Regions from separate parts of the Homo sapiens genome. Here region 1 is linked to region 2. The links come from fine-mapping of genetic effects on gene expression. A gene starts in region 2. The other region holds a variant in brackets. All regions are shown on one strand. Distances are from middle to middle.

Region 1 (2,913 bases), 920 kb before region 2:
CACACGGTGCCAGCAGGTTGCTGCCAAACAGGCTGCCTGACCTTGCTGTGCTGCCATGGGTCTCTTGTTGTTGCCCTATATGGCTACAGACTGCCACTCAGTCACAGCCTCCCTCATTGCTAGCCTGCTCCTCTCTTGTTCCTAAAAGTGTCTTCCCTTCTGTTTCAGCTCTCCCAATACCAACTCTGTCTTCCCCCCAACACCAGTTAGAACCCTTACTGAATGTCACTTTCACCTATACTTCATGATGTCCCATAAACTTCTTCTTGGGTTCCTTCACCTACCTATATCACCCCAAGCATGTTATATTCTTGTTTCCCGCAGTCTTCTCTTGCTTAGAGACCTCTTTCTCTCATGCTTTATCAGTTACTCATTGCTGGTAATGATTGATCTGTGTTGAGATATAAATATATAATGTATTCGAGAAATAAATTACAGGCTAAGGTGGAAATGCTCATATGTCATCATCTCCTTATCATCAGACCAGAGCTTATCTTCGGCGCTGCTTTGCTTTCCCAGGTCACACAAAGCCAGCGGTCACTGCGACCAAAATTTACGCCTTCCCTGCTGAGAAAAACAAGAACTGGGAGGAGAAAAACAGATTTTTAATATTCATCTCTGGAGGCTATGAAGTTTACAAGACATAAGAAAGGTATTATTTCCTCAAGGAGGTGGAATATTTCTGAGTGTGGTAGTCTCTGGATGGTGGTGGAGGTGGGGACAGAAGGGTTAAAGAGAGAGGTAAGAAAAGAGAGGCCTAGGCACTGAGACTGCTTCTTGTGTAAAAAACAGGTAGGGACTGGCTTTGAAATCAATCAACTGACTCAAAGAAGAAATAACTGCTTAAATCTTTATCAGAGTGCAGTATAAATTCCATCTGAGTGTGTGTGTGTGCGCGTGCGTGTACGCGTGTGTGCATGTATGTGTGTAGACACACATGCTGGAATTCCTTGCCTTCTGATTAGAACATGCACTGCAGTAGCATCCTCAGTGTAGGCTCCAAGGTGGCAGGGACAGTGTGCCCTTGGATATAGTCCTAGTGGCCAAACTGAGGAATCTTTCCCCACTTCTCTCATCCGAGGCTACCTTGGCCAAGGAGATGATAACTTTCCTACACTGGTTACACATTACCACCATGCTATTGGATTTTTTCCATTCTCCTTAGCTGGCTTTTTCTGAGCTTTGGGAGCTCAATATTCTTTAGGCATAACAATGGGGTTCAGTTAAATTTCTCTTGTTATCTCTCCACCTTTCCAAGTGGCAGTGCAATGCTGTATGTTTCCTGTTGGTGCTGTAACAAATGACTACAAACTTAGTGGCTTAAACAATCCAAGTGTGTTATCTTAGAACAATGGAGATCAGAGGTCCTTAATGAGTCTCATTGGACTAGGGGTACAGGGGGCTCTCTTCAAAGTTTCAAGAAAGTTCAGCTGTGGTCCAGCTTGCAGGCTCCTCAGCAAAACCAAAGCCCTAGAGGTAACAGGAACTACCCTTTCTAGAAGTCAGGTTAGCATCAATCTGCTGTTACTTCAGCTGGTGCATTGAGG[G/A]TCTCACACTTCAAACCAAGGGCTCTTCAAGTATTTCTTCCTTCAGTAGACACAGAGCTGAGTACAATCTGCTCAGTCTTGCTACATTTTTGGTGATTCTTCATTGCCTGGTGCTGCCCCATCCCCACACGACAGCTTGCTGTATCTGGAACCTCATCTGAATCCTGCTACTGCCCTCTTGGCTGAGTCCTTGGACCCTCATTGTCCCATTCTTTTTATTTTACTTTAGAGGCAAGGTCTCACTATGTTGTCTAGGCTGGAATGCAGTGGACCAATCATAACTCATTGCAGCCTCAAACTCCTGGGCTCAAGTGACCCTCCTGCCTCAGCCTTCCAAGTGGCTAGGACTACAGGTGCATGCCATCATGCCCGGCCTAACCTCCTTGTTCCACTCTTTTTCTGCAGAGTACACTATACTCCTCAGATGGCTGATTCTCCTGTGAGTGCAATAGATGTTTCTTGGTCTTGAAAGCTCATAGATTTATTCCCAGCACTGGATCAACACAATTTGCCCTGCACTGCTTCATTGCATTGAATTTTATGTTTTTAATATCACATCTGCAAAAGTTGTAAACTAATTTCTTAGTATTTAATGTCTTGGCTCTCCCCCCATCCCCCAGCTGCCTGTGATTGAAAGGGAGAAAAACAACTTTGGCAGCACTAGGGGTGAGCAGTTTCATGTTTGGGATCTCTCTATACCACGAAGGCTCTTGTGAGATCCATCATGAATGACAGGAATTTGGCCCAAATCACAAGATGCCTGTGATTTAAAAAAACAGACAAACCTGGTTCCCTTGGTTGTGAAGAAGCATATATATTTGTTTCCATTTTGGTGATGTTTTAACCCTTATTATTCTATAAATAATTTTCTTCTGGGGTCCTAAACATCAGGACAGATGTGGGAAGGATGGGGCCTTACCTGGATGGATTATTCTTCTTAGGACATTTCTCTAGAGATGAGACATGAACCTAAACCCTCTTTGGAATTATATGTTGCATAAGTCAGCAGCCTCTTTCTCCTGTGGCCTCCATCATGCCTCTACCTAATCCCATCCCCTCTTCCTCACCAGCTCCTCTATCCCTCTCCCAATCTTCTGGTAATACTGCTAATATTGCTCAAATACTCAAACACTCCAGCATGAAGGGCCCACACAATTGGAAATATTTGTGTTAAAAAGTAAAAAAAAAAAAAAAAACCCACAAAAAAACCCTTAGCCCACAAAATCTAACTCTGCCCAATATCCACAAAATACCCTCCTTCATCATCCGTAAGTTCTAGTGAAATTAAAGTGCTTCAAGTGTTAGGAAATTATATGAGAAAGAGCTGAAAGAAGGCTGCCTTACCATACTTCCAATATAAAATTGC
Region 2 (2,913 bases):
ATATCTACAACCTGAGACAGAAAAGAGTAAATTGGCGATTGCAATGAAGCACAGATTTCATGCATGTAAAAATAAAACTGAACATCTTTTCTATTCTTCCCCTTGAGCCCTTTGGGACCTAGGACCCCAATCCTTCCAGGACAACAAACAGAGTATAACTTTCTACCTCTTCAATAGGTCTCTTTCAAAAAGAGCATTGCAAACTTTCTACCATAAAGCCTATACAAATCACTGTAGACTTCTCTGATGAAAATCATTGCCAACTTCCAGCTTTCCATTTCTGTCTTTTCTGGGGGAAGGAGCGTCCATCCCTCCTTGACGAAACATAAAAAACACAATACATGTATAACAACATCAGCTTTCTACAAACACGAAGAAGAAATACAGACAAGAAAAAATTCAAAAGAAACAGACAGATATATGGCAGAAAGAAAGAAGGAATTCTAAAAATCCACAAAAGGCGTGCAATGTTCACGTCGGAAGACCTTGATTATTACCTTGATCGAACTGTGGATATCCCCCCTGCGTCTTGGTGCCTTGATTGGTTTGATTTAGTTTTGGATTTTATTAATATTATTGTTTCTCAATGATTGATTTGGCTGGATTTGTTTGTTTTGGCTTTTGGCTTGGCTTTTGTTGTTGTTGTTGTTGTTGGGTTTGTTTGTTTGTTTTGTTTTTGGTCGATTTATTTAACTGCTAGTAAAAGGAGCTTTCTGCAGTGTCGGCTGGGATCCCACACAGCTGTGGCAGCCAGGGCTGCGGCGGCGGCTCGGTCGCGGCTTGTGTCCCCGCTGCCCCTGCTGCTGCTGGTCTCTGCTCCGGACGCGCTCAGAAGGTGCCACCGCCGCCTTCTCTGGCCGGCTGGCCGCCGGGAGTGAACGCGCCCCCGCCTCCTGTCTGCTCTTCTGTCCGTCTGCACGTCTGTCAGTCCGACCGTCTGTGGGTCCGACTAGCAGCTCGGCGCGGGATTCTCGCTTTGCTGCGCTCTGCTCTCAAAGCTGCCACTCTCGCAGGCTGCCAGTCTGTGCGCTGGTCTGTCCGTCCGTCCGAATCCCTCCGTCCCACCAGCAATGCAGCGTCCCTCTTCCGGTCTTCTGTGCCCACAGTCCTCTCCCACTCTGTGCCCCTGGCCGCTTCGCTCGGTAAGAGGAGGGCGTGTGGAGGGAGGGAGCACGCGAGTGTTGCTGTCTATCTTTCTGTGTGCCTCTCCCTGCCTACTTAATGCTCTCGCTCTCTTTGCGTTCTGGTCTCCCTCTCTCAGGCTGTCTGACTGCTCCCACCTGTCCGTAGCTCTGCCAGTCCCACCCCTAGCCAGCCAGCCTCGGTCGATCCCTCGGTCCCGTTCCTCCAGCTTGGCCGCCTCCGTCGTCTGCCCCTCCGCCGGTCCGTGCCCTCCCACGCGGCTGGCACTGCCGCCGGGGGCGGCGCCCGGCTCCTCCCCGCAGCTCCGGATGCGTCCGGTCCCCGCCCGGGCTGAGGGCAACGCGCGTGTTGCACGTGGCTCCACAGCTGCTCTGGCCGGAGACCCCGGGCCCCAGACCCGCCACACCCGGGAGGTGGCGGCAGCCGGACGCCTGCCAGTGTCGCCGCCTCTGCGCCACTGGGAGCATCCAGAACTGGCCCATCCAGAGTGATGGCACCTGCTGGGTGCGCCGGGCGCCCGCGGTACCACTCATTCCCTGGGCCGTTCTCCGCCAGCCCTAAGGCTGGAGACAAAGCGCATGAGCCACGCGCAGCAGCGTGAGCATCATTAATCAGAAAGAAAACTGGCACGTTGCCCCCTGCCCCGCCACACCGCCTCCCTGCTCCCAGCGAGCAGGCATGTATTCTCTCTTGTCCCCCGTGCCCAGGCCCTCCAGCGTACCCGTCTCGGGGGCGCCCCTGGACTCCTGGGGACTCTTGACGAAGCCTTGTTCCACTCCCTCCACCGCTCACTCTCCAGGCCAACTCTGCAGAGACAATCCCACAATAATAACACCTCGCCCCACCCGAATGAATCCGTAGCCTCAGCGCTCTTGGAGATTCTTTGCTTTGAGCAAGACTGAAAGTCCGAACGTGCAGCACCAAGTGTACTCCCTGTGGGTGACTGCCCAGACCGCTGCCCACCTGATCGCTGATTTGGAATCACAGAGGTGCCACAGAAACCTGGGCAGGGTAGGACCTGGGGAAGGAACAGAGTTGACACCTGAAGAAATAAAAGCCTTGATTTTACCGCTTGTTCTAGAGATGCACTATTTTTATTGTCTGTAATTCATTGTTTTTTTTCATTGTCTCGGAGCACTCACTAACACACTACAAGGAAGGAAAAAAAAAAAAAAAGGAAAAGGCGTAGTGAAGGAGAGTGAATAAATTTCCGGAATTCCACCTACTCCTTCTGAGTGAATGTAGAGCCTACTTTTCCAACATTATAGGTCACCAGCCAAGATATACCACTCTAGCTTTCTGCTCCCAGCTGAGAGCAAGGCATTTGATTCTGGGCTTCTTTGCAAGGTTGTTATTAATGTGCAGCAAAATTATAGTTGTACACTCACACATGGAATTGCCAAAGCTCATTTTGACTATATCCAGCAATTCAGCTTCTGAAATGTAGACACTGAATAACTGTGTATCTGGCGAAATGAACGCCCCATCCCACAATAAACTGAAGAGGAGAAAATCAACTTTTACCAGTTGTAATTAGTAACCCCATGAATAGACAACAAACAAATAACTAGCATAAAACATGTTATGAAATTTTCCACATCCTTTTAGTTTCACTTATTGACACCCAACCATAATGACAGAGATTACAAACAGATTTATTAACATAAATGCCTTTGCATTATTATAGAAATGTGATTTCTACAGCTATGGCTGTGTTCATATACGCTAAGATATTGATTATAAATCTCAAATAAATGATACATGTACTTC

Direction of the effects. Alleles are on the strand shown, and positions count from the first base shown. SD is a standard deviation of normalised expression in the study named.
For the expression in subcutaneous fat of the gene that starts at base 1,371 in region 2, allele A in region 1 goes with a higher level than allele G (large effect, 0.92 SD a copy in FUSION).

The links. PIP is the estimated chance that this variant, and not a neighbour inherited with it, causes the effect.
Region 1: its variant is fine-mapped to the expression of ARPP21 in subcutaneous fat (FUSION, PIP 0.92).

The regions. Positions count from the first base shown.
Region 1 is chr3:36,554,333-36,557,245 of GRCh38, reverse strand. No RefSeq gene overlaps it. Among named protein-coding and RNA genes, the nearest start is that of STAC, 180 kb to the right of the region's middle. The variant G/A (reference allele first, on the strand shown) is at 1,548.
Region 2 is chr3:35,637,983-35,640,895 of GRCh38, reverse strand. It overlaps ARPP21 (cAMP regulated phosphoprotein 21), which reads right to left and starts at 1,371. Exons shown (of 21, transcript NM_001385562.1): 1 at 498-1,371.